4 linked regions of the Homo sapiens genome follow. The protein of the gene in region 4 interacts with the protein of the main gene of each other region in a pairwise test. Each region holds a gene or a part of one and is shown on either strand. Other genes may lie near its edges.

Region 1 (7,025 bases), on a different chromosome or scaffold from region 4:
TGGCAGACCAGTTCTGGAGCACCATAAAAGCCCCATCCTTGGAGAATTTTCACTATTTTACCTGGATGGAACTATTTGACCTGCCTGGCACTTCAATGAAAAGCCACATTCTGAGATGTAATTGGTATGACAATTACAGTAGAAAGTATGGGAGGTAGAGAACAGCTAAACAAAGTTTTTTAATATAATTGAAATTAAGTTGGTTTTAATACAAATTAATTTATTTAAGCCAAGAGGTTAATTGTAATCCCCAGAGCAACCACTAACACACACACACATACACAAAAACAGTAAAAGAGGCAAGAAGTTAATTAAAATGGCACATTGGAAAAATCTATTTAACATAAAAGAAGGAATAAATGGAGGAACAGAGGAACAAAAAAGATAGAAGAGAAACAGAAAACAAAAAGCAAAATAGCAGATGTAAATCCTTAACAGACTCTAATTAAATACATTAAAATAAATGAACTAAACTCTCCACTCAAAAGGCAGAGATTGAAATAATTGATTAAAAAGAGAAAATATAATCCAAACTATTTGCTGTCATGAGACACACTTTAGGTTCAAAAACACAAATAGATTAAAAGCAAAAAGATGGAAAAAGATGTCCCATACAAATAAGAACCAAAGTGGAGCTGAGTTTTAGAAATTTGAGTCTTCTTTCTGTTTAACTTGATCAGTCTAGCTAAGGGATTATAAATTAAGTTGATCTTTTCAAAGAACTAACTTTTGGTTTTGTTGACTTCCTCTATTATTTCCTCTATGTCATTTATTTTTGCTCCATTTTTTATTATTTCTTTTCATCAGCTTGATTTGGATTTAGTTTGCTCTTCTTTTAATAAGTTCTTAAGGTGGAGATTTCAGTTATTAATTTGAAATCTTTTTTCTTTATTAATATGGGCATATACAACTATGGGCATTACAGCTAAATATCCCCCTAAACACTGATTTTATTTTACTCCATAAGTTTTTGGCATGCTGTGTTTTAATTTACCTCAAAATATGTTCTAATATTCCTTTTGATTTCCTTTTAATTCATTGACTGTTTGGTAGAGTGTTAATTTCCACATATTTGTAATTTTCCTAAATGTCCTTCTGTTATTTATTTCGAATTTCATTCCACTGTGAACAGAAGTGGCAAGAGTGGACATCCTTATCTTATTTTTGATCTTTGGGGAAGAATTTCAACTTTTCACCATTAATTATGAGGTTAAGTATTAACACACAAATTCGGCCAATTGATTTCTGACAAAAATGCAAAGGCAAGTAAATGGAGAAAGGATACTCTTTTAACAGTTGGTTCTAAAACAACAGGACATTTGAAGCCAAAAAAAAAAAATAAGTGAACTTTAACCTAAACTTCATACCTTATATAAACATCAAGTAGTCAAAATGGATCATAGATCTAAATGTAAAATGTATAACTATATAACTATCAGAAGAAAACATAGGAAAATATCTTTTTCATGAACAGGTAGAGTTGTTAGATACATATAAATGCACATACATAAAAGGCAACCCATGAAAGGATCAACTGATAAACAAGATTTGAAACAATACTTGAAAACATTTTCTGTGAGGTAAAAGACTTATACACTGAAAACTACAAAATGTTGCTGAAAGGAATTAAACAAGACACAAATAAATAGACATCCCATGTTCATGACTTAGAAGACAATACTGTTAAGACATCAATACTAACCAAAGTGATATACAGATTCAATGTAAGTCCTACCAAAACGTCAATAACATTTTTTTACAGGAATAGAAAAATCCATTCTAAAATTCATATGGAATCTCAACCAATCCCCAAATATCCAAAACAATTTTGAAAAAGAACAAAGTTGGAGTTCTCACACTTCCTGATTTCAAAACTTACTACAAGGTTACAGTAATTAAAACAGTGTGGTACTGGCATAAAGACAGGTATATATAGTCAAATGATTTTTGAATAGGGTGCCAGGATCATTCAGTGTGGAAAGAACAGTCTTTTTTCAACAACTGGCACTGGGAAAACTGAATATCAACATGAAAATAATAAAGCTGAATTTTTACCTTAATACCATATACGAAAATTAACTCAAAAGGTTCAAAGACCTAAACATGAGAGCTAAAGCTATAACACTCTCAGAAGATAACATAAGGAAAAGCCTTCATTTCATAACAATGGATTTGGCAATGATTTCTTGGATATGACACCAAAAGCATAGACAACAAAAGAAAAAAATCAACAAATTGGACTTCATCGAAATTAAACACTTTGTGCATCAAAGGACAGAGTGAAAAGGCAATTCTTGGAATAGGAGAAAATATTTGCAAGTCATATATCTTATAAGGAATTAATATACAGAATATATATAGAACTTCTACAACTCAACAACAAACAAGAAACTTATTTTAAAAATGGACAAGAGATCTGAACAGATACATCTCCAAAGAAGATATACAAATGGCCAAAAAGCATGTGAAAAGATGCTCAACAGCACTAATCATCAGGGAAATTGAAATCAAAACCACAATAAGATAACATTTCATACCCATTAGGACGGCTATTATTTTTTAAGAAAATAGTAAGTGTTGCCAAGGGTATGGAGAAACTGGAACTCTTATCTTGTGCATTGCTGGTGGGAATGTAAAATGGTACAGTCTCTATGGAAACTGATATGGCAGTTTCTCAAAAAATTACATGTAGAATTAAGATGTGATCCAGCAATTCCATTTCTGAGTATATACCTACAATAATTGAAAGCAGGTATTCAAACAGATATTTGTATACCCATGTTCGTAGCAGCATTATTCACAAAAGCTAAAACATGGAAACAACTTAAGCATCCATCAATTGATAAACAAAATGTGCTATATACATACAATGGGATATTATTCCACCTTAAAAAGAAAATTCTGACACATGCTACAACTTAGATGAATCTTGAAGATATTATGCTAACTAAAGCCAGTCACAAAAGGACAAATATTGTATGATTCCACTTATATACTGAGAGTAGTCAAATTCATAGAAACAGAAAGTAGGATGGTGGTTGCCAGAGGCTGGTGGGGATGGAGAAAACGGGGAGTTAGTATCTAATAAGTACAGAGTTTCAGTTTGGGAAGATGAAAAATTTCTGGAGATGGATGGCTGTGATAGTTGCAGAACAATGTGAAAGTACTTAATGCCATAGAACTACACACTTAAAAGTGGTTTAAATGGTAAATTTTATGTATATTTTACCACAATAAAAAAAGTTTGCCCTGCAAAAGACACTGTTAAGAGAATGAAAAGACAAGCTACAGACTGGGAAAAAATGTGTGAAAATCACATATCCAACAGAAGATTGTGTTTAGAATATACAAAGAACTCTCAAAAGTCATCAGGAAGAAAATAAACAACCCAATTATAAAACAGCAAAAGATTTGAACAGACACTTTAGCAAACAGGATATAAGGATGGCAAATAAGCAAATGAAAGATGTTCAACATCATTAGCCATTAAAGAAATGCAAATTAAAACTACAATGAGGTACCACTTCACAGCTATTGAAATAACCAAAATAAATACTGACAATACCAAGTGCTGACAAAGATGTAGAGCAACTCGAACTTTCATACATTGCTGGTGAAAATGCAAAATGGTACAGCCACTCTGGAAAATGGTTTGGCAGTTTCATATAAAGTTAAATGTACACTTACCATATGACCCAGTAATCCCACTTCTAGATATTTACCTTAGAGAAATAAAAACTTATGTTCACAAAAAAACCTGTACAAGAACGTTCATATCAATATTATGCATAGCCATCATAACCTGGAAACAACCCGAATGCACTTCAATGGGTGAATGGATAAACAAACTTTGGAATGTCCATATGATGAAACACTACTCAACAAAATAAATGAACTATTGATACACGCAACAACTCAAATGAGTCTCAAAGGCATTATGCTGAGTGAAAGAAGCCAGTCTCACAAGGTTACATGTTGTGTGATTCCATTTACATGACATTTTCTAAAAGATAAAACTACAGTGATGGAAAACAGTCAGTGATTGTCAGGAATTATGGTGGGTTGGGAATGACTATAAAGGGACAGCATGAGGGAGTTTTTTAAGGTGATGAAGCTATTCTCTTTCTTGATTGTGGTGGTGGTTACATGAATCTACATGATTTACAATTCATAGAATTGTACACCAAAAAAGAAGAAGCCCCATGCAATTTTATTGGAAGTTCATTTCAAAAGTAAGAAAATATTAGCTATCATATCATCATCATCATCAATAATTATACTTTACTGACTAATAAAAATATTCAGAATTATTTGTGAAATGGGATCTAAAAATCATTAAGGTCAATTTATGTCTGGTACAATAATTTAAATGTATAGAGAAAAAACAACAGCAGTAAATGTAAAAGCTTTACAACTTCTACTAACTCCTCTCTTTAATATTCTGTATCAGGATAATATGCTCCCTCTGGATCATTTCCTATAAACATTGTCATATACTGAATATGGAATTAAATAAGTGCTCAACTGGGACCCTAGGTTACATTCCTAAGTCTAACACTATAAGAAAACTCTCGACTTGCCTTTTGTGCCTAATTTTATCTTCCTCTTCATTGAGGTCATGTACTTGTCTGCACTTGTCTTTTTGTGGTATGCTGTGAAGGTTTAAAGCAAGGAGTTTCAAAGATAGGAAACAGAACAGATTCATAAACCACCCACCCTCCACCCCAAATACCAGGTACTGCTTTAAGTGATTTACATGTATTCTCTCACTTAATCCTCTTAGTAACCCTGTAACATAGCTACTATTAATATTCTCATTTTACAGATGAAGATACTGAAGCATAGAGAGGTAACTTGCCTAGCATCTCATAGCTAGTTAAGTGGGGGAGCCAGGATTTTCCCAGGCAGTCTGCCTCCAGAGCCCATGTTCTTAATCATTATGCTAAATGTCTCTCCACAAAAGGTTATTCATTTGTTCATTCATTCCTTCCTTCACCACTGCTCTGCCATGTCTATGATCCTTCTATCTCTAACAAATCATTCATCCATTCTCACGGCCTTAACATGTTATCTAAGGATAGATGATTCCCAGTTCTATATATCTAGTTCTGACCTCTCTCCTGAGCTTCACGGCTGCATTTCCAACTGTCTCCTCAACATCTGCATTTGATGATCCTGCCATTCTCACAAATTCCACATGTTTAAAATCAAACTCATCATCCTTCCTCGAAATTTCCCCATAAAGGCTTTCTTAATTTTGCCAATTGGTAAGTCACACAGCCTTGAAACCTCTGGATTATCTTTGACACATACCTCTGCATTGACCTCCCTCCTTCATTTTCAGTCAACGAGTTTTATTAGTTCTTCCATTATAAACCTACCTCTCTCCAATTTCACTGCTATCACTCTAGACCAAGTCTTCATGCCTAAATGACTGTAATATCTCCTATCCATTCTGCCTGCTTCCAGTTCTTCCTCTCTCTAATCCTATTTATTGACCACCAGATTAATAATTTTCAAATATGGCTTTTATCATGTCACTTCTGGTTCAAAAACCTTCAACCATATTGAAACTAACTGATAACTAACTCTGTATAAGTCTATACTAGTTACCAAATACAGTTCAAAATTTTTAGCTACCTTTCTAACCTTGTCTCACATCTCCTCCATAGTTAGCACACTCCCTAGTGCTCACACCATCTGTTGCAACTGAAATGTCATTACCTCTCTTTTCTAAAGAATAGGTAGTATTAAAAGAACATTTAAATCTTACCTCCTCTGAGAGGGCTTCTTCAATCACACCAATACACAGTGGCCTTTGCCTCCTCTGAACTCCAACAACACTTAACAAATGTATCTAGTATTGTCACTAAATGTTACATGTTTATCTCTCCAACCAGACTATACTTGGCACAAGGTGAGGAACCATTTCTTAAACTTCCATGCACCTTCCACAGCGTCTAGTAAAACTTATCTGTCAAACTAAATCCTTCTGGTTAAGACACATACTATTTATCTATATATTTTGTGCTAATTTGTAGTTCAGCCTAAAGACCCTTCACAATCTAGCTTCGCCTCCCCTTCCTTCCAGTGTCACCTCCTGTCATTCCCTGCCACTTCTTCTACTCCTGCCACGTTAAACTTCTCATTGTTCCTTAGACACACCAGGTTCTTTCATAATCCTGTTGCTATTTACTACCTTTAATCTCCATTCCCCTTTATTTACCTGACAAATGCCCATTGATCCATCAGGAGTTAGTATAAATGTCAACTTCTGACTCCCCCAACTAGACTTAGATGCTCTGTGTTCTGCACTACCTCAGCATTTTATTCAAATCTCTATAATAGCAGTTTCCATGTTGTCATGCAACTAACTGTGCACATATTTGTCTCTCTTATGGTATTATACATTTCTCAAAAGTAGTGACAATTTGTCTTTCCCCTATTCCCTTCACTAACTCTTCATATTTAATGCCCTGCTGTTTAATCTTTCTCTCAGTGAAAGAATATATCAAAGTCAGTGGGGATCACATACCTTGGTAATAAAGAGCCTTAAGGAAGGAGTGACGATCAGCTCCCTGAAATAAAGACTTTTCTATTTCCATTTCTCGCCGGGTCAGCTGTTTGCTCTTTGCAAATCTCTGTGGCAGGCAAAGAATGCGCTGACGCTCCGAGATCCTTTCTTCAATATCTTGAAGACGGTTCTGTATTGCTTCAGGAGTTGCCCTCAGTTTTGTCTTCTGAAACCAGAGGAATGAGATGGCATGTATCATAGAGGGCACAACCTGAACATGATGATCTGGTATCTCAAGTAAAAAGATGACCTAGGCCCAGAAATGAATGTTTACAGAAAGTGTTAGCTAAGAAGTTAAAGAACAGCTTCTCTTTTACCAATGTCTGCATTCTAAAAATCAAAGAAGATTCAGACACCAAGCTCAGTTTTGTGAGAACTAGAAATGAAAAGGCTCTCAGTGCTAAAATGAAGATATTTTGCTCTGTTTCTTTGAGGAGAAAAACCAACAAAA
Region 2 (7,231 bases), on a different chromosome or scaffold from region 4:
CAATAGCAAAGACTTGGAACCAACCCAAATGTCCAACAATGATAGACTGGATTAAGAAAATGTGGCACATATACACCATGGAATACTATGCAGCCATAAAAAATGATGAGTTCACGTCCTTTGTAGGGACATGGATGAAATTGGAAACCATCATTCTCAGTAAACTATCGCAAGAACAACAAACCAAACACCGCATATTCTCACTCATAGGTGGGAATTGAACAATGAGATCACATGGACACAGGAAGGGGAATATCACACTCTGGGGACTGTGGTGGGGAGGGGGGAGGGGGGAGGGATAGCATTGGGAGATATACCTAATGCTAGATGACGAGTTAGTGGGTGCAGCGCACCAGCATGGCACATGTATACATATGTAACTAACCTGTACAATGTGCACATGTACCCTAAAACTTAAAGTATAATTTAAAAAAACAAAAATTCCCAAAATTTTCTCTCCGACCCTCTAAACTATCCAAGTGAATCAATAAACCAGTTCATGAGAGGAAATTGCAGCTATTTTACATGCTTTTTTAAAATCAATGTTCAATTATAATCAGATTACAAAAGGAATCACATTGCCACATCTCCTTCTGGCTGCGCACTGTAAGCCAGGCGTCCTTGGTTCTCAGTAACCCCTGTTCTGCTGACAGGCACGGAGCTGGGCCTCTAGTACCATCTGATCAAGGGAGCTGTTGGGAGGCGCTCTCTCCTCTCTCCTGGAGGCCTGAGGGAGCTTCTGGAACTCCTGGAAGTTTGGGTCTTTCCCTTGGGAAATGTGCTGCACCCTCTGCTCCTTTTTCTTAATGGCCTCCTTGATGCCCTCAATGTGACACTTTTCCTCCTTCTCGGCTTTCAGTTTCAGGATGTGGTGGTTTTTCTCCCTCAGGTGGTTGAGCTCCCGGAGGTGCTGCACCTTGTCCCTAGTGGTCTTGTGCACGTGACTCCTGGCCTGTCGGATCTTCTCATCCGCCAGCTCCACCAGAATTCTTTTGCGCATCTTCCTCTGTTCCTCTGACTCCCCTGCGCGCCACCTGGCCTGCTGCAACTGCTCTTCCTCCTTCTGGGCCTTCTCCCTCAGCTCGCGTTGCCGCTCCTTCCTCAGGCCCTGGTGTATCTCCTGGGACCGCTGGAAACTTTGTTCCAGGGACAGCTGCCTAAGGAGCTCCTCAGCCTTGGCCTGGCAGTCCATGAGGACCTTCCGGGCCTGGTAATTGATGAGGGAGCTCAGGTTGGTGTCCTGGACCTTCTTCTGGCCCTCCACGGCATGTAGGTGCCTCTTGCGACAGGCTTCCACCAGCCTCCTCTGCAGCTGCAGGCTGTGCTGCTCCCGGAGGTTCCGTAGCATCTTCTCCTGCTCCCGCAGGCGCCGCACCTGGCACTGTTTTCGGTGCTCTGCCTGGGCGCGCGCCTTCTCCAGCTTCTCCTGGCGCGGGCTCTCCTGGTCCTCTGGTTGCTCCTTCCACCGGCTTTCCCCCGGGGGCACGTTCTTCCTCTGGCTGTCCCGCCGCAGGCCGCGCTGCTCAGGGCTCTGGAGGGTCTTGCGCTGCTCCTTCTCCTGCCACTGCTCCTGGCTCTGCCGCAGCAGCAGCCGGCGCTCCCGCTCCAGGGTCATCTGGACCTTCTGATCCGAGCGCTTCAGCTCCTCCCAGGCCTTAGCCGCCTGCTGCTGCAGCTCCCGTATCCTCTGGGCCTTCTTGAGACGGGTCAGCACCAGGGCCACAATCTGCTGGTCCTGGGAGGACACCACCACCTCTTCCAGCTTGCTCTTCAGGACCTGGGTGTGCGGGCTCCGCATCTCTTTGCTGGAGGCCAAGGGCTGGGAGTCCCGGCTGGCTAATGACTCAACCTGGTCGCTGCTGTCTCTCTTCTGGGCGCACACGCAGGCTGAGTGCCTCTTGAACTTTTGCGAGGGCACAGAAGACCGCTCCGAGGGAACTGAGGAAGGGGACCAGCGACCTAGATGTCTGCCGAGTGGCACTGCCCACTGGTCTCCACCCTGTGCCTTTTCTACCCTGAATGTGCCACTCAGGGGAGTGCCAGCTCCTCCGGGGCAAGGCGGGGGCGAGTCTCCCTGGGCCAGAGGGTAATGCGGGCAGGGCTGCGGCCGCTGGGGTGGCAGCTGGGTCTGCGGCTGCCAAGCCGGGCGGGGCTTGGTTCCTGTCTCTCCCCAGGCATCTTCCAGGCGCCTGCTGCGGGGCCGGTGCTTCCTGGAACGTTCCAGGGGCCTGCGGGCCACATCGCTCAGGCTTCGGCTGCCCCGCAGTGAATCTGAGCACCCGCGCCTGCGAGGCCGCGGGGTGAACGAACAGTGCGGGTGCAGCCAGCACGCCCCAGCTTCGCTCTCCGCACCCGGAGTCCCGGCCCGGGAGCACGCGGTGGAGTCGGCTCCGGACCTCTGCCCGCCCAGCCGCTGCGTGGACTCTCGTTCTCCGCCGGGCCGCGGGGGTTCCCAGAGATCCCGGTAGGGCGGCTGGGAGAAGTGGCTGAAGCCTGCCATCCCTCCCTCTGGGCACGCGCAGCGTCTGCCCAAGGGGCCTGAGACCTCCCGAGGACGCTGCAGACACCCGCCCTGCCCCCCGGTCCCGAGGTCCGGGTCGCCTGTGACGCTCGGGCCACTTCACAATGCGCCTGGCAGCTGGGTCCTCGCAGTCTTCAGACCTTGCCCGGCGCCGCCCACCCCAGCTTTGCTAGCACCCGGAGCACCTGGAATGGGAAGGACAGGAGGCTGGGGATGGGGGTGGTGGGGGTCGGGTGGGGGAGAGAGGGGTTGTATGTTGGAGGAGGGAATATGTAGGAAATCAGGGTGACATTTAAAGCTGAGGGTGCATAGTGTCCCCCACCAGTGTTTCAGGGAGAAATTTGAACTCGCATTTGCACACAAACAGCAGGATTTTAAGAGAGCCCAGGTGAAGGCGTCACCCTCAGAATGGAAGGGGTGGGGAGAAGGGCCGGGGTGCAGTCTCAGGGAGGAGGTACCCTTAGCTGCAGAATCACCGTCCTGCACGTGTGTACCTCTGCAATGTGGTCAAATAGAACGGCTGTGGACGCGACACCACCCATTTGCCTTTTAAGTTAGCAAGCCCAAAGTATGCTTTAATGTTTACTTTTTAAGATTTTTAGAAAAGGTAGAAGACGACTCTATTTCCTAATATGGTAATTACTGCTTTTGTCAAAATGTGAATGCTGCGTGCACATTTCTGCAATAGCATTAGTGAACACCATGTTGAAATCACATTTTTTTTTCCCTTTTCCTCCAATTTTGTGGGATTCTCGTTCCTTGTTGAGGCACCCTTGGCTAATGGGAAAAGCACTGGATCTGGTAGAGAAAAAGAATTTGAATCTCCTCTACCACTCTTCACTCATGGGCTCTTGGGCAAATTCCCTAAGTTTCCCTGACCTCCAGTTCCAGCAAGGTGGAATGGGAAGTGGGGCCTCATCATATGGGCATTGCAGGACTGTTGTGAGGGTCAGATGAAATTATGCATCCAGAGGTTGGCACCAGAATACATTCAATAAATATTATTTTGGTGCCATGCTAAGCGTCAGTTAAAAGTTTTAAGGGTTGGGCTGGGTGGTGGCTCATGCCTGTAATCCTAGCATGTTGGGAAGGCAAGGCAGGAGGATTCCTTGAGCCCAGGACTTAGACCAGTCTGGGCAACATAGAGAGATCCTGCTTCTATATAAAAATTTTAAAAATTAGCTGGACATGGTGGGTGCATTTGTAGTGCCAGCTACTCTGGAAGCTGAGGTAGAAGGATTGCTTGAGCCCAGGAATTTGAGGCTGCAGTGAGCCATGATTGTGTCACTGCACCCCAGCCTGGGCAAGAGTGAGACTTTGTCTCAAAAACAAAGTGTTAAGACTTAAAGTAATATATGAATTTACAAATATTTCTGCAGATTCCTAGCTTAAGAAAAGAATGAAATTAATGTAATCCTAAAATAGTTTAAGTAAAGGATAGAGTGCTAGAAAGGGGAGACTCCAAGCTCTGTCGTGTCCACATCATACTGTGGATCTTGGCTAAGTCATTTCTCTTCTCTGGGGTTGCTGTGGTCTGAAGGTTTGTGTTTCCCCCAAATTCATATGTTAAAATTCTAACCCTCAAGGTGATAGTATTAGGAGGTGATTAGGTCATATGGGTGGAGCCCTCATCAATGGGATTAGTGCCCTTATAAAAGGAGCCCCAGAGTAATCCCTCATCCCTTCTGTCACGCGAGGACACAGTGAAAAGATGGCCATCTCTGAACCAGGGAGAGGATCCTCACCAGACACCAAATCTGATGTCTTGATCTTGGACTTCTTAGCCTTCAAAATGGTGAGAAATAAATTTCATTCATTTATATGCCACCCAATCTGTGGTATTTTGTTAATAGCATCTGGAAGAGACTAAGGCAGGGTTGCAATGAGGAAACAGTTCTGGATAGCATTCTCCAAGTATGACCATTCCTTAAAGAAGAAAAATGAGTATTTACCCACACCAGTCCTCTTCATTCACGTCTCCTTGAAGCATCACAGCAACCCCAGCTAGGAAGGACCAATAGCCTTGATAATATTTTCCACTGGACAAATCTGGGACTTGGCCATATTAACTGATTTCCCCAGGGTCACTTGGTCAATGGCAGGAGTTTTGACTTCAGATTTACTTCTCTTTCCATGATAGCGTGCTGCCTGCCTCTCGGGGAATACACTTTAAATTGAGCCATGCTTTTAAGAGAATTATGATCTGATGTACAGCAGAGGGTCATGGACACCATGTCCTTGAAGCCACGTGGTAGCAGCCTTAACTACAGTGGAAGGAGCCACTCTGCCTGGTTAGGATCTCACCAGCATGTCTATAGCTGGGGATAAGAAGTTTTTCTACCCTAGATTTTATTGGCACCATTTGTATCCTTGTTAAATAAATTATTTTATGTGAATATAGTCCTTACTAGATGGTAATTTAAAAAGTAAACCAAATTTGAATGGAATCATTTAACTTTTGAAGTTAGGAAATTTTTTTCATGTATTGAGTTGTGCTGATAGCTGAGTGTCATATCTCTCTGTTGATGCTTTGTAAAACATTTTGCAGGGACAGGTCAATACCCAGGCTACTCCCATAGAGCAGTGTTATGTGGGTGAAAGTATACTCACCTGAAAGCCAGGAGACCTGCCACCAGCCAGTTCTGCTAGCAGCTGAGTCACCTGAGCAGTCATTTCACCTTTCCTCATCCCTGTAAAGTCTCTTTCAGTCCCAAATGCAGCTGGAGAAAGGGTTCAATCTAGTAAATGCTTCAGCCTTTGTTCTGTAAAGCAAAAATGAGTTAATCCATGAAAAATGCTTAGAGCAGTGTCTGTCTGCATGTGGTAGCTGCCTTATAAATATTAGCCATTAGAATCATCATTATCATTATGCCAAGAGCACTAAAACCATGGCAGCGTAGAGCTGAATTTAAAGACTTAGTTTGGGATGGAGTCAGAATGAGAACCCAAGGGCTCAGATTTCCAGTTCGGGGCTCTTTGGCCTCTTGCTTCCTCTGAAGGTTCTCAGGATTCCTCAGGGAATTGTGTATGGCTCACTCACCTCTGCTGACGATGGAATAAAGGACACAGTCTTCACTTCATAATGTCACACACATTTATTGATAATCTGGGCCAGGATTAGAAAGATGATATTGCTATGAGAAACAGGTCTGGGTAGCAGATGTTTTAAGTGGTTAAACAGTTCACCTTAACAGATTTCCCAGGGGAAGGTGGGGGTGTGCTCTGTCTGAATTGTTTATAAGAGAGGGCTCCATACAGGATGACACTGGAGTGAAACCTGGAAGGACAGTTAGGATTGTCCAGACAGGGATGAGCAGGAAGACACCAGGCCGAGGAAGCTGCATGGACTGCAGTGTGGAGCCTCGAATGCCTGGCACATTGGGGTTGTGTGATTTGTGTAGCAGGGGCATGGAGAGTGTGTGCAGTGAAGTGGCAGGTGATGAGGCCAGAAAGGTAGGCTGGGGCAGATTCTGGAGGGCCTGCTATGCCAAGCCAGGAAGCATAGACATCCTCCCGCTGGGCTGCAGCATCCCAGCTGTGTCCGGAAGAGTTCCGGGATTCCTCAGAGCTGTGTTGGGCCCAGAGGGGCAGGGCTGGAGGACTTTAGGGCAGGCTCTGAGGCCTCTGTCCTTGCTTTACCCAGGGCAGCTTAGACTTTATCTGTTTTATATCTTGGAGCTCCTGATAACACTTCACTGAAAAAATTTGGGGTTCTTCTGTTTCAATCCTTTTTTATGAGGGTTGAAATCCACTGTATAGATCACAGGGAGAAGTCAATAAAACTCTTGAAACCAGGAAAGAAACCCAATGGGATCTAGATTTTAGAAAGCTCACCCTGGCAGCAGCGTGGATGATCAATTAGTAGGCTGGTTCAGCAGTCTGGGTGGGCAATAAGGAAACGCAAACCAGGGCAATAGCCAGGGGACAGGAAGGAATGGATTGGAGGAACAGGTCAGAGTTTGAGGGTTCATGTCATGGGGATGCTTTGATATGGAGAAGGAGGGTTTCTAACCCAAGTGGCAGTGATAGCAGATCTCCAGTCTAGGTGATCTTGAAGACAACAATCTTGGAAATTTGGTAAAAGAAGTTATAATAACAAGTGACCCCTACACAGAACAGCAAATAGAATGTCTGGAGTAAACCACCAAAACTTGAAAGAGAAACCTCTTCCTTTGAGGGTCCTGGTGGGGAAGCTCCAAGCCTTAGCACATCGTCACAGAGCCAAGGAAATCTTCCTCACCTGCATCTGTAGCCTGTTATGGAGACCCCTCAGAGGATCCCAGGCTGGAAGCTAAAGTCAGCTCTTTCCTGGGGCAGACGAAGGAGATGTTTTGCAAATGCTACACTGCCAAACATTCCCTTGATACTAAGAACAATCATTTTTATTTGGCAGAAAAAAATCCTCAATGTATTTTGCTGGATGCCTTAGAATGTGAGCCTTCTGCCAAATGAAGACCTGGACCTCCTAATTTGTTGGAGACTTGGCAAATATGGCAGAATGTGCTCTGACCCCACAATTCAAATTCATCTGTGGAATTGAAATGCGTTCCACGCCCTTCCTCAGAACAGATTGTTAGCTGTTGTGGTGACTTCCAATTCGATGTCTTAGCAGAGCATCTAATTCTGGGATGGGTCAAATGGGAGAAAAAAGCTATAGCTACTCTGTCTAATATGGCAGCCCGTACTCATACATGGTAGGTGCCCTTGAGC
Region 3 (7,025 bases), on a different chromosome or scaffold from region 4:
GAGGATCACTTGAGGCCAGGAGTTCAGGACCAGCCTGGCCAACATGGCGAAACCCCGTCTCTACTAAAAATACAAAAATTAGCCTGGTGTGGTGGAGTGGTGCACGCCTGTAATCCCAGGTACTCGGGAGGCTGAGGCAGGAGAACTGCATGAACCTGGGAGGCGGAGGTTGCAGTGAGCCGAGATTGAGCCACTGCACTCCAGCCTGGGCGACAGAGCGAGACCCTGGCTAAAAAAAAAAAAAAAAGGGAAAAGTGGAGATGTGGGATTAGGAGGGTCCTTGGGGGGAACAAAAGTGGAGGAGGGAAATGGGGGTGTCAAAGGAGGTGACGATGTTGCCCTGGAGGTGCAACGAGGCCCTTGAGGCGCAACGAGGCCCTTGAGGCAAAGCGGCTAGGCATGGGGGCCGTCTGCTGTGGGGTGATGAATCGGCCCTGGGGGAGGGCCGGGGTCACTGAGGTCCTTGTGGGGAATCTCACCCTGAAGAAGGGCTGTTTCTTCACATCTTCTGCATCTCTCTCGCTAGATCCCAGCCTCCGCTCTGGGTTCCTCCGAAGCAGCTTGGAGGAAGGAGCACTGTGTCAGGATCTGTCCCCTCCTGGGCCCCACTGCCCCTCCCCAGGCCCGCCCCACGTCGGGGGTCCTCACCCTTCTCATGATGCCGATGGCTTCGGCCGACAGGAAGCGGGGGTAGCGAACCTCGTCGTTGACGATGCTGTCGAAGACCTCCTCCTCATCATCCCCTGGGAATGGGGACTGGGGAGAGGGAGGCCCGGGGTGAACGAGGCCCCTCCTCTGGCTGCTCCAAACCCAGCCCGGCCTGAGCCCCACACTCTGCTGCAGCTCTTGGGTGCTGGCTTACTTGGGCAGGGAAATGCCCCATTTTATAGATGTGGAAACTGAGGCCAGGGAAGCAGAGCCAGCAGCCCTCAATCACACAACACATGGTGGAGGCAGACTTGGATCCCACCCTGGGCACGCGCAGGTTCCAATGAGATCCGAGACACACAGGGGCGGGGTCTCACCTCGCCAACCAGCATCTCGTAGAGCAGCACACCCAGTCCCCACCAGTCCACAGCTCGCGTGTACGACGTGTCCGTCAGCACCTCAGGGGCCAGGAACTCCGGGGTCCCACAGAATGTGCTGGTCCGGTCCCCATAGCCCATCCCTGGGGACAGCAAGGCCATGTGAGGTTATGGGGGCCAGAGGAGTCACTCAGCCCAATGTGGGGTTGTCCACACAGCCAGCCCTGTCCCAGGGTCAGGGTGGGGGGCACCCCGAATAGGGTTAGGGACCCCATTCCTTCCCCCTCCTTTGTCTAATCCAGAGGCCAGCCCCTCACCCTCCTTGCAGAGGCCAAAGTCTGCGATCTTGACGTAGCCCTCGGTGTCCAGGAGCAAATTGTCCAACTTCAGGTCCCTGTTGGGGGTTGGAGGGGTGGAAAGAGGGATGAGCGGGGGTCTGGGTCCTGTCCCCACAACGGGCAGTGTGCACATGCATGCACACACGCACACACCTGTAGACGATCTTGTGTTCGTGAAGAAACTGTAGGCCCAGCACCACGCAGGCGGAATAAAAGCTGCAGAGAGAGAGAGGCTGCTGAGAGGGGTGGGGCCACCCTGCAAGGAGGGAGGGTCACATAAGCCTGGCTTCCACATCCTCAAAAGCCCCCCAGTCTCCCCAAAGCTCTGGGAGGCTGAGGGAAGCAAGGCCTGAGGGTGGAGGGGTGAGAAGCAGGCTGCCAGCCTCTCGGGGGGACTAAGTGTCAGATGCTGTAGGGGAGGCAGGGGCCCGGGCTGGGGTCCAGGCTCACATGGCACGGGGCTCAGAGAACACGTCGCTGTGGATGTGCAGCATCAGGTCCCCACCGGCCGAGTACTCCATCACGAAGCACACGTGCTCCGGTGTCTGGAAACAGCCGAAGAGGTTCACCAGGAAGGGGTGTCCCGCACTGGTCACTGCCGCCAATATCCGCTTCTCACACATCAGGCTGGGGAGGGGTGGGGGATAGAAGTCAGAGACCATGGCCGCCACTTACTCCAGACTCCCAGATGGCAACCAAAGCCCATACAGAGGGAAGCAGAACTGAGAAACGTCATCTCAGCACCTGGATACAGCCATGCCTGAAGGTAGCACACTCCTGGACTTTTCAGATCCAGACCAATAAATTTCTTTACTTGTTTCAGTCTTTCTCAGTTGGGTTCCTGATTATCAAAAGGATGCTGGGAAGACCAGGCACAATCTCAGTGCCTGTACCGAATGTTTAGAGGGGTTAGGCACTGTGTAGAGAGCACCTGACAACCATGTGTGGAAGGCAATAGCATTCTGCTTCTCCACAACAAGAGGGGTTCTTTTTTTTTTTTTTTTTTTTTTTTGAGACAGAGTCAGGCTGGAGTGCAGTGGTGCGATCTTGGCTCACTGCAACCTCCGCCTCCTGGGTTCAAGCGATACTCCTGCCTCAGCCTCCCAAGTAGGTGGGACTACAGGCACCCGCCACCATGCCTGGCTGATTTTTGTATTTTTAGTAGAGACGGGGTTTCACCATGTTGGCCACACTGGTCTCGATGTCCTGACCTCAGATGATCTGCCCACCTCAGCCTCCCAAAGTGCTGGGATTACAGGCGTGAGCCACCATGCCCAGCCAAGAAGCTGAGGTTCTGAAGGGAGAAGTGACCTCCCCAGGATCTCCAAGCCCATGCTGCAGAATTGAGATTTGAACCCAGGAACCTGACCCTAAAGCAGAGGCAGTATGGTGGCACCACAAAGGGCACAGGCTTCAGAGCCTGAGTCTCTAGCTTTGAATCCTGGACCTGCTGCTTACTGGCTGTGTGACCTTGGGTAAATTGCTGAACCTCTCTGTGCCATCAGTATTTATCTTATAGGGCTACATGGAGGAACAAATGAATAACTTTCCTAAGAGCTATTATTATCTTGGTATTAGGCTAGTAGGTATTAGTGACTTTTTGTTTTGAGACAGGGTCTCACTGTGTTGCCCAGGCTGGAGTGCAGTGGCGCGATCTCAGCTCACTGCAACCTTGACCTACTGGGCTCAGGCGATCCTCCTATCTCAGCCTCATGAGTAGCTGGGGCTACAAGCATGTGCCACCACACCCAGCTAATTATTTTGTATTTTTTGTAAAGATGGGGGTGTCACCATGTTGCCCAGCCTGGTCTTGAAATTCTGAGCCCAAGTGATCCACCTGCCTCGGCCTCCCAGAGTGCTGGGATTACAGGTAAGAGCCACTGTGCCTGGCGTTAGTGACTACTATGAGTCACTCTCCCTGTAGCTCCAAGGAGAGAACTGCTCTGTCATTTCCCAAAAGAGAAGAAAGAGGTCCCCAGAGGACCACGGCAGGTCCCCACCTCTCCACCTCGTCTCGGGCCACAATGTCCCCTTTCTTCAGAGCCTTGATGGCGAACAGCTCCCCACTGGGCCGGAATTCGGAGAGGAGCACCTGGAACCACAGTGGGCAGGGGTGGTTTTAGCGGCCAGCCAGGGACCTGGGGGGTCTCCCAATTCCCTGCCCTCCACCTCACCTTCCCAAAATGACCCCGGCCCAGCACCGCCAGGAACTTGAAATCTTCGAGGGTCAGAGGTGACTTCCTCAGAGGGCTGTGGAGAGAGGCCACTGGTGAGAACAAGGACAGCGGGCAGGGGTGGTGGACAGGGGGCCAGGGAGTGGTGTCACCTGCACAGGGCGGGGCCTGGGGTCTCCTGGGTCTCCGAAGGCAGCTCGGGAGCAGTGGATTCCTGGATGGGGGAGCTCTGTGGCGGAGAGAGGAGGCCAGAGTAAGGGGAGTCAGAGATGCCCTCATAACCACAGCAGCCTCCGAGGCCCTGCAAGATCTGCCCCCGACCTCTCTGTCCTCACCTCTCCTCCCACGCAGCCCCTCACTCACTCTCCTCCAGCCACACGCCTGCACCACCATGGCTGGCTAATTTTTGTATTTTTAGTAGAGACGGGGTTTCACCATGTTGGCCAGGCTGGTCTGGAACTCCTGATCTCAGGTGATCCACCCGCCTCGGCCTCCCAAAGTGCCAGGATTACAGGCGTGAGCCACCATGCCCAACCTGAATTTTTTTTTTTAGAGACAGGGTCTTGCTCTGTCTTCCAGGATGGAGTGCAGGGGCGCAGTCATAGCTCAGTGCAGCCTCCAACTCTACCTCCGCCTCCTGAGTAGCTGGGACTAAAGGCATGCACCACCACGTCCAGCTCATTTTTTTTTTTTTTGAGATGGAGTTTCACTCTTGTTGCCCAGGCTGGAGTACAATGGTGTGATCTTCGCTCACTGCAACCTCCGCCTCCCGGATTCAAGTGATTCTCCTACCTCAGCCTCCCAAACAGCTGGGATTACAGGCATGCACCACTACGCCCGGCTAATTTTTTATATTTTTAGTAGAGATGGGGTTTCTCCATGTTGGTCAGGGTGGTCTTCAACTCCCGACCTGAGGTGATCCACCTGCCTCAGCCTCCCAAAGTGCTGGGATTACAGGCGTCAGCCACCGCGCCCGGCCTAATTTTTGTAGAGATGGGGTCTTGTTCTGTTCCTCAGGCTGGTCTCAAACTTCTGGCCTCAAGCGATCTTCTTCGTTCAGCTTCCTGAGTAGCTGGGACTACAAGTGCAAGCCATCATGCCTGGCTTGACAATGTCCATTTTTTATTATTATTTTTTTTATTTTTGAGACTGAGTCTCACTCTGTCGCCCAGGCTGGGGTACAGTGGTGTGATCTCAGCTCACTGCAACCTCCGCCTCCCAGATTCCAGCAATTCTCCTGCCTCAGCCTCCCAAGTAGCTGGGATTACAGGCGTGCGCCACCACGCCCGGCTAATTTTTGTATTTTTAGTAGAGATGGGATTTCACCATGTTAGCCAGGATAGTCTTGATCTCTTGACTCCAAAGTGCTGGGATTACAGGCGTGAGCCACCATGCCCAACCCATTACTTCTACTTTCTAAAAAATTAGATCTATAAAAAATTAGCCAGGTGTGGTGGTGCACGCCTGTAGTCCCAGTTACTTGGGAGGCTGAAGTGAGAGGATCACCTGAGCTCAGGAGGTCGAGGCTGCAGCGAGCCATGACTGCGCCACTGCACTCCACCCTGGATGGCAGAGCGAGACCCCGTTTCAAAAAAAAAAGATAAAAGATAAAATGCATTCAGGCTGGGTGCAGTAGCTCATACCTGTATCTCAGCAATTTGGGAGGCTGCAGAGGGGAGAACACTTGAGGTCAGGAGTTCAAGACCAGCCTGGCCAACATGGTGAAACCCCATCTCTACTAAAACCAAAAATTAGTTGGGCATGATGGCACATGCCTGTAGTCCCAGCTATTAGGGAGGCTGAGGCATGGGCATCTTTGAACCTGAGAGGCGGAGATTGGAGTGAGCTGAGATCACGCCACTGCATTCCAACGCCCATTCTGGGCGACAGAGTGAGACTCTGTCTCAAAATAAATAAATAAATAAAATGCATTCAGTGAGGTGGGCAAGAGGAACAGGTTACATATGCATCCACCCAGGAAACCATCAGCCAGCCTAGGAGTTGGCAAATGCTGGCTGGTGGGCCAGCCTGTTTTTATAGTTTGTAAGAGCTAAGAATGGCTTTCACTATTTTTTTTTTTTTTAAGAGATGCAGTGGCCGGGCATGGTGACTCACACCTATAATCCCAGCACTTTGGGAGGCTGAGGTGGGCAGATCATCTGAGGTCAGGAGTTCAAGACCAGCCTGGCCAACGAGGTGAAACCCCGTCTCTATTAAAAATACAAAAATTAGCTGGGTGTGGTGGGCACACACCTGTAGTCCCAGCTACTCGGGTGGTTGAGGCAGGAGAATCCCTTGAACCTGGGAGGCAGAGGTTGCAGTGAGCCTAGATCACGCCACTGCACTCCAGCCTGGGCAACAGAGTGAGACTCCATCTCAAAAAAAAAAAAAAAAGAGATGGAGTTTTGCCATGTTGTTCAGGCCAGACTCCAACTCCTGGGCTCAAGTCATCCTCCTGCCTCGGCCTCCCAAGTAGCTGGGACCACAGGTAAACTGATTTTTACATTTTTAAATCGTTGGGGGAATAAAAAAAAACAAAAAAAGGAATAATATTTCATTGCCCATGAAAGTTCTACAATGTTCAAACTTCCGCGTGTACTACCAATAAGGTTTTACTGGAATAGAGACACGCTTACAGTGTACATATATCGTCTGTGGCTGCTTTCAAACTACAAAGCAGACAGGGACTGTCTAGCCCACAAAGCCAAAAATATTGACTCTCTGGCCCTTTCTGGAAAACGCGTGCTGACCTCTGACCGAGATCAAGATAAGGAACATTTCCATCACCCGGCAGGTCCCCTTGTGGCTCCCAGCTTGCGGTAACCTCTGCCTAGAGAACAGCACTCTCTCGATCATTCTATCATTGACATGAGTTTTAAATATGCTCGTTTTGCAAAGTGGTACACTGAGGCACAGAGGTGAAGCGCAGAGCCAAGAGGTGGCACGGCAGGGGTGGGAACCCAGGGGGTCCAGCCGCTGAGCTCACAGTTTTATTTATTTTTATTTTTTGAGATGGAGTCGCTCTGTCGCCCAGGCTGGAGCGCAATTGGTATGATCTTGGCTTACTGCAACCTCCGCCTCTCAGGTTCAACTGATCCTCCTGCCCCAGTTGCCCGGGTAGCTGGGATTACAGGTGCCCACCACCGTACCCGGCTAATTCTTGTATTTTTATTAGAGACGGGGTTTCATTGTGTTGGCCAGGCTGGTCTTGAACTCCTGGCCTCAAGTGATCCACCCGCCTCAGCCTCCCAAAGTGCTGGGATTCCAGGTGTGAGCCACTGTGCCCAGCCTGTTTTGTTTTTTGAGATAGTATTTCGCTATGTTGCCCAGGCTGGAGTGCAGTGGCAGGATCATGGCTCACAGTGGCTCACTGTGTTGCCCAGGCTGGTCTCAAACTCCTGGGCTCCAGCAATCCTCCCATGTCAGCCTCCCAGAAGTGCTGAGATTATAGGCATGAGCAGTTTTTTAACCAGGATGGGGATCTGGGC
Region 4 (7,643 bases):
CAGTCTTTAAACTGCTTTCATTTAATCTAATTAAGTTGTATGTAGATTTTCTATATTAGTCTTACACTTAGTTTTTAGTGCTTTCTATATTTTATTATTTTATCTTTCCATTCTTTTATTCTCATTGGTTTTAATATTTTTGTTCTATTTTCCCTTTTATAATCTTGTTACTTTTATGTTGAACTCTTTTGTCAAAAGCCCCTTGTTGGGAAAGTCTAGAGACTTTGTATATCAAATACAAAGCACTGTGCCTCTGAGCCTAGGATTTGCTGTTACAAAGAATTAATGAGAAGGTGGCTAAACTGCATAGGAAAACCATTTCTGTATTTATAGAGTAAGCTATTAATGCCATTGTAAGAATTACCAATATAGTGCTTTGTAAGTCCTCTAAGATCTGCATCTGTCACATTTGGCCAGACCCACTTGAACAGTCCTTTTCATTAGATGCTAATTACTGGCTTCTGTGCGAGGGACAGAAAGATTATTCACACAACTCACATCCACACAACAGCCAATCCTGTTAGGCTTTGACCTTCAGCTTTCAGCTCTGTATTTACTTTATTACATAAACATAAATATTATATTGTGATGTATATTCTTTTATATATTTTTTTCAAATACATAACTCTTATACATATATATTTTTATATATATAATTCTTAAATATATATTTCCAAATATAAATTATTTCATGTCAAGCTAAACAGGATAAAAACATGTAAACATATACACTTGGTTTTGGTCAAGTAAAACACAAAATCACAAGTTCATCACAGTTTAACAAGTGCACTTGAAGGGGAAGGAGGGAAAGAACAAACTGTAAACAAACAGATGAGCAGCTGCAAAGCCCTGCAAGGGTCCATTTGTTAAGGCTATTATAGCACAAAGCTACTAGTTCAATTAAAACTTCTCCTTTCACTCTGCCACATTTACTCTTGAGGGTCTTCAAAATAAGTGTGGAAATTCAGTAAACACTACACTAGAACTGAGTTAATCCTGTTGACAACAGAGATGACAAAAAAAAGCCATAAGCTGACATTAATATTAATTTCACCAAAACAGTAACTTTAAGGACTTATTTTTTAACACAGATAATCACCATAATCCTAGGGGGAAAGATATGCAGAATAGACAAGAAAACAGAAGCACTGCCTCAACAGCCCCTGAAAGCAGTAAGAGTGTCAACACAGGGAAAACAGGCAATAGCAGACGACAGAACCTCAGCAGACTAGACCACATGCCACAGCACGATGCTACAGAATCAAATTGAAATATTCTTCCAGCTCATAATGAAGCAAGTCCCACTGGTCCTCAGAGAAGGGTAACTCATCTCTCAGTGAAAGAAACCGCTTAAACAACAGACTGGCCAGCCGAAGCACGACAAGCTCCTTCTTAATGCTTTTATAGAGCATGTTGCCCTCTCCCATTCGCACAGGCTCCACAAGTTGATGCCAGTATGCGCTGAATGACCCACCACCTGGCCCAGGAGGCTCATCTCCCCAGCCCTCAGGGTATTCATGCTTGTAAAAGCATGTGTCTCCAAATGGGCAGTTACCCCTGCCTTCCGCAAAATACCTGCAGGCCTTGTTGCTCATTGCCTCCTTGTATTGCTGAATAAGTTTCTGCTTCTCTTCCTCCTCCTCCACCCAGAACTCACTGGGAATGACCAATTCAGAGGTGACCCTGCACTGTGGGCAAGACTTGACGATCCTGTTCTCAAACTGTCTGGCACTTCTCCACCTGCGGATACACCTAATACAGAAGGAATGGTTGCAATTGGAAAGAATGCCAAAGCGGCGGTCATTGGGGTTGGCCTTCTCATAGACAACCTCCATGCAGATGCCACACACCTTGTCCATACCACGCTGCACAGCAAACGAGAGTTCCATATCTTTCTCGTGTGCTTCAATGCAGGCCCTCATATGTTCTTCCCTCTGGGCAGCATCCATGGGGTGCAAGGTCTGCAGCCCACACATGTCGCATATGTCTCCATGGAGGTACATACAGCTCTCCCCACGAAAGCAAACTCCCCTGGAAGCATAATAGCAAAACCGCAACCCACTGCCCACAGCCATCTGCTTCCTCTCAGTCTCTGAGCTCTGTAGAGGAGCCTCGGGGGCAGATGCAACCCAGCGGCCCCGGTAGGGCTGCCCTGGAACAAACTCAATGGCATCCGCCCAGCTTTCTACACCTGCTCCTCCAGCAGCTCCACGGTCTGCATTGTCTCTCTCGGCTTCAAAGAAACCCCTTTCAGCAGCCGAGCCAATCACAGGCAAGGAAAGGGAGGATGCAGCCGGGGGGGCTTCCGCCACTTCCTGAGTCGGGGGCTCGATGTGCGCAGCCGTGCTAGGGCCTCCACCTGCAGAGGCCCCAGGCGGCGAAACGCCACCCTCAGTGGCCATCTTCCGACCAGAAAGGTCGTGCGAATAGCGACAGTTCTCCCCCTCCTTGCACTGCCCATGTATATAATACCTGCAGATGATCTGCTTTGTCCAAATGCCGCTGCTTCGGCTTGGCAACGGACTGGGCCAGGCTCCTCCTCCTGAGGCTGGGGCAGGCCTCAGGCCTCCTCTGCGGAGGTGGGCAGGGACTGGAGCTACAGGGAAGGGGGCCCAGCCCCTTGCCGCATGTGGCAGGGCTGAATCTGGAGCAGCAGATTCCCCGGAGGGCTCACAGACGGGAAGGTCCGGCCCAGACACACCCTCCCTTGCTGCCTCAGCACCTGCCTGGGCCCCGGCTGCCTCGTGGGCTTCTGAGGGAGCTGCAGGCTCTTCCATGGCTGCTTTGGCACCCCGAAATGGTGCCAGAACCTCTCCGGTATTTTTTCTTTATGGGCTTGAGGCCCGGAATGGCGGCCGCGCTCGGAGGCTTCTCTGGGGGAAGTGTGCATCTCTTTTTCCTTCCCCCCTGCTTTTGGGTCCCTCTGACTGTGTGTTCCTACCTACTTCCGGGCACAGGCAGCATGGCGGACACTTCCTGTGGGGGCAACGTACGTGCTCTGCCTGGTTTTTACCGCAATTTTCCAATCTGACATATTTTTTCGTTCACACAGGCGGGGACCAACCCAGCCCCTTTTGTCTGCCTTCTGCCTCTGCTTCGCTGTGTTCCGGCAGTCCCTAAGTCCCTTCTCACACGATTTCCTCAGGAGAATGAGGTTTTACTTTAATCTCTTCTGGTTTCGGTCATGCACGCTTCGTTGTATTTTCGTATCTGTCTGCCTTAAAAAAAATATAATCCTATAGATTCTGAAACATTTCATCCATGAATTATATAAATTCTTTTTTTATTCACTCCATCTTATGTCTGTGGTTTTTTTCTTTTAATGCCCGATCGCGGCAGGAAGCTTTTTTCAATTCGTTCGGTTGACAAGGCGCCGTTTCTTTTGGTCTTTGTTTTCTGGGATTTCTGAGGGCTTACACTGGATACGCTTTTCACCAGCAAGGCATTAGCAGAGAGCACTTCTGATCCGAGGCTAAGTTAGCACCTTTCAGATGTCTTTCTTTATTGTGATTACTATGCTCATTTTCCCACTGTGTTAGAAGCGCCAGACTTCAACCAGTCCTGATGCTGGCCTAATAAGACACTGTCCCCTGCATGACCCAGGCTTTTATTTTCTCTACTGGTTTAATTCATGGCAGCCCTTTGTTTCCCTTCCTTTCTTTCAACCCCATCTGTGCTGTGTTGTGGCAGGACAGCCTTTCATAACATATCCTGTGCCATATTATCCACAAAGGAATGGTCTTTAATTTCCATGTATGAGCGTTTTGTCATTTTTGCAGATAAATGTAGTAGATTAATCATTTTTTTGTATTCCTACTTTGCTGAGAGTACGTATCATGACTGCATACTGAATTCTGTTATGTAGTTTTATACATTTTTTGAGACAATTTTGTTTTTCCCTTTATTCTCTTAATGTGATTATTTGCAGCTATGAGTTTCAAATATTTAACTAACCAATTTGTTTCTAATAAGAAGCCCTTCTGTCATGATATATCATTTTATATATTATTGGATTTTTTTTCTATAAGTTTCTTTGAGGAAATTTTGTTGCCTAAATCTGTAAAGTGGAAACATATCTGAATATTTATAATCACCCAAGTCAACAAATTAAATTATAATTAAGTAGGTAAAAGCAATGAAAGCAGAATGAAGCAAATAATAAGGGCAAGAAAAGCAATGAAGAAAAACAAATATTAAATAAGGGAAATAAATTAAGTAAAATCCCTTAAACTGCTTATTGAAGCCAGATAATTTCTGGTGAAATTTATCAAGGAAAAATGAAGAAGGCTCTAATACCCAAGATCAGTAATTTCAAATATGTTATCACTACATTAATAACAGACATTAAAAATCATTAGAGAATATCAGGAACAAAGTTAGGAGATAAAACTTGAAAAGTTACATGAAATAGTCATATTGGTGGAAACATCTATTAGTAAAAATGACAGGAGCAGAAATACATGTGAATATGGATCTGTTAAATTACATCTGTAATTTAGATAATTATCTAAATAAAGGTCTCTAAAACTTTCTCTCTGAAATAAATCTAAAGGCAAAAAAAATCTGTATTTATTATTGCAAGTCCTAGCTAGTGTAATAGCAAAGAAATAAAAGATGTTATAACTGGAAAGAAATTATTGATGGAATGCAACAGAAAATTGAGAATAATTTACAGATAAGCTATTAGATTTAATAGGTACATTTAGCAAGGACACTGGACAGGAGTCCAATATATGAAAATCATTTTTATTTCTCTATCATCAATAACATTTGAAGTAAACATTTAAAATTAATAACATTCATAACAACATTAAAAGTTAGCTAACCTAGGAATTAAACTAATTAAGGTTATACAATAAAATTAAAAACATTTTAGCTTCAGAAGACCTAAATAAATTGTGGGATACTTTATATATAGTCTTTATAGTCGGTCAGTAGAAGGCTCAATGTTTTTAAAAGGTAGTCTTTTCCTAATTTGATAATTATTTGAAAATGGTGCTGATTATTCATCGTGAATGTAGGAAATGTTGGATTTATCTTTCTCCTTTTCATAGTTACCAAGTTTTATATTTTGCATGCAAGCTGTCCCAAAGTCTGCCTCACTTGAACTTTCTGAAACAAACTTTCTCTTTATCAGGATTTGTTTGTCAGCCCCAGTGATTTTTACAAGAAAAAGACTTGCAGCACAGCTCTCAGGCTTCTACGCCAAGCTCTCTACAAATTCACAAACATAAGAATCCTGAATATAAAATTATTACTGGCTTAATTGTGATATTTTCCTAGCACTGCATCTATTATTTGCTTAATTGTGATATTTTCCCAGCACTGTATCTAAATCATATTTGACCCTCTCTTGATGCACCAGCACTGTCCAGAGGAACTTTCTGTGAAGAATTTATATATATGCATGCTGTACAGTATGAAAGCTAGCCCCATGGGGTTCTTGGGCACTTGAAATGAGGCTAGAGTGACGGAGGAAATGAATGTCCATTTTTTAAATTATAAATTTAAATAGCCACATGAGGCTAGTAGTTACTGCATTGGAGTGAAGTTCTATACAATATTTGACCATCTCATCTCCTAACACAAGGGAACTGAGAAGCATATGTTTCCTCACCTGCCCAAGGCTATGCAGCTGGTGCCAGGCAGTGTTTGCTTCCAAATGCCCACCTGTGTGGCTGCCACTGGTGTTCATGTCTTATAGTCTGATAGTGACTTTATCTTTTAGTTTTGTCGTGACAATATTTCATATAAACTGTTATAAGCCAATATTGTATCCCATGATTTTAAATACCATAAAAAATTGAATAACTGGAAATAACTGGGCAGTGCATCTTGAGAAAAATAAACTAGTTCCCATCCTATCCAAATGTCTTCAGAGATCATTTCCTCTGACTGCCATTGTCTATATTCCTGCCATGATATATACATATGTATATTTTTTGAGCATCAATATTGTTTTTACAGTTCTCAGAAAGTAGACATTTAGTCATTTGTCTAGTTATTTGGCTCAGCTGTGCCTTCTTTTCTAACAAAACACTGACAGCCTCAGAGGCTGGGACCTGGTTTCCTTGTGCACACACCAGTCTGCAGGGTAGCATGGGATCCCCTGGCCGGTCAGCATTTGGGGGTCCGAATGGAATGAGTGCAAGGCTGGGCGATGGCAGAGCTGAGGTGAAGTCCGGGCAGTCTAAGAATATCCTAAGAGGAGGGAGCAAGTTCAGAAGTGAACTGCAGGATGGAGAGAAGCTGCAAAGTCCTGCAGTTTTTTACTCCAAACAGCTCAGGCATGCGCTGCCTAGCCCCGTGTGGTTAACATGTCCGTATTTAAAGAACACACAATTAATTGCCTAAAAGCATTATCCTTCTCAGCACTCTCCTATCCTTCAGATCTAACCTTTAGGCACTGCCGGCTGCCGGCGGGGTCCAGGACCCAGCGGGGCTGGGCGCGCGGAGCAGCGCTGGGTGCAGCGCCTGCGCCGGCAGCTGCAAGGGCCGCAGAAATTAAACGCGAGTGTCCAGAATCGGGCATTGTGGGTTTAAATCCTGAATCCACTGGTCACTATCTGAGACTTTCCCCTGTCACAAATTAGTTACCTTCTTTTATCCCATCTGACAACGGGAATAATAACAGCAAGAATTACACCGACTAGTTCACAGGTTTGCTGTATTAATTAATTTATAATAATTCATTAATTCTTATAAAGTGATTGGAACGATGCCTGATCTTTAAGATACCTGTAAGTGTCTCTTCTATTTTAGAACCACCCAAAGAATCCTGTGACTGAAGTCTTTGTGTCAGTCCCTCTATGTGCACAGCAGTCAGATTTCTATAGGGGCCCTAGAAATTACTGGCACATGAGAGGTGGTGAATGAGTATTTATTGCCTTATATTGATAGACAAACTGATTTTTATTTTGAAATTTAAAGAGCCAGTTTTCTCCAACCCTTAGTTCAGAAGTTTAGTTGTAGAATACCTTTGTGGAGGATTTCTTGTGCTTTCATCACTTGTGGTAGCAGTAGGATTCTGGCTGGAACAGCACTCCTTTAGCTCATTGTTGGCTGTTTTGAATAGACATCTGATCACCCTGAGTGAATAACTGGATAACAAAAAGTTACTTTAAAATGGCTTTAAATTTCAATATGAATATGAAAAAGAGGTGTAAGTACTCCTACAACCACTTAAAGATCATAAAAGATACTGCTTATACTGATTTTTCTATATTGTAATCAAACACTGAAATTTTCAAGAAATCTTCTGTCTACAGATGTCAAAAATTCAACTACATTTCAACTTTAAGGTGGTTAACAGAATTTTGTCATACTGCTGTATTTTATACATACAAAACATGCTTAATGTCCAATTTGTAGTCAGATGAAATAACTTATCTCAAGCTAGTATTTTTATCCGGAACAAGGATAGAAACTGGTTACTATACATGAAGTAAATGCTTAAAAGACAGGAAATAGTTAATGTGGTGAGTGCTCAGGGGAAAAAAAAAGATGGCCTTAAGTAACCTAAATAACCTGTGGGTGGTAGAAGCAATCACAAAGAAAACTGGAAAATATTTTCAACTGAACAGTAATGAGTGTATAACATGTTAAAAGACTTAGGTTGCACTTAAAGTCATGCTTAGAGGCAA

Evidence for each region.
Region 1: the proteins of MKRN3 (region 4) and RBM41 interact in binary tests that used the Homo sapiens proteins (3 or more experiments, as listed by UniProt).
Region 2: the proteins of MKRN3 (region 4) and CCDC185 interact in binary tests that used the Homo sapiens proteins (3 or more experiments, as listed by UniProt).
Region 3: the proteins of MKRN3 (region 4) and PKN1 interact in binary tests that used the Homo sapiens proteins (3 or more experiments, as listed by UniProt).

What each region holds. Positions count from the first base shown.
Region 1 is NC_000023.11:107,108,817-107,115,841, forward strand, and holds part of RBM41 (RNA-binding protein 41), read right to left. Parts: intron 6,741-7,025; coding exon 6,536-6,740; intron 4,653-6,535; coding exon 4,581-4,652; intron 3,723-4,580; coding exon of another isoform or gene 3,688-3,722; intron 1-3,687. UniProt on the Homo sapiens protein: May bind RNA.
Region 2 is NC_000001.11:223,388,745-223,395,975, reverse strand, and holds CCDC185 (coiled-coil domain-containing protein 185), read right to left. Parts: upstream 2,562-7,231; 5' UTR 2,501-2,561; coding exon 629-2,500; 3' UTR 511-628; downstream 1-510.
Region 3 is NC_000019.10:14,464,306-14,471,330, reverse strand, and holds part of PKN1 (serine/threonine-protein kinase N1), read right to left. Parts: intron 3,767-7,025; coding exon 3,690-3,766; intron 3,614-3,689; coding exon 3,538-3,613; intron 3,456-3,537; coding exon 3,364-3,455; intron 1,991-3,363; coding exon 1,814-1,990; intron 1,580-1,813; coding exon 1,517-1,579; intron 1,420-1,516; coding exon 1,343-1,419; intron 1,169-1,342; coding exon 1,026-1,168; intron 757-1,025; coding exon 649-756; intron 561-648; coding exon 480-560; intron 1-479. UniProt on the Homo sapiens protein: PKC-related serine/threonine-protein kinase involved in various processes such as regulation of the intermediate filaments of the actin cytoskeleton, cell migration, tumor cell invasion and transcription regulation.
Region 4 is NC_000015.10:23,560,917-23,568,559, reverse strand, and holds MKRN3 (E3 ubiquitin-protein ligase makorin-3), read right to left. Parts: upstream 2,887-7,643; 5' UTR 2,778-2,886; coding exon 1,254-2,777; 3' UTR 516-1,253; downstream 1-515. UniProt on the Homo sapiens protein: E3 ubiquitin ligase catalyzing the covalent attachment of ubiquitin moieties onto substrate proteins.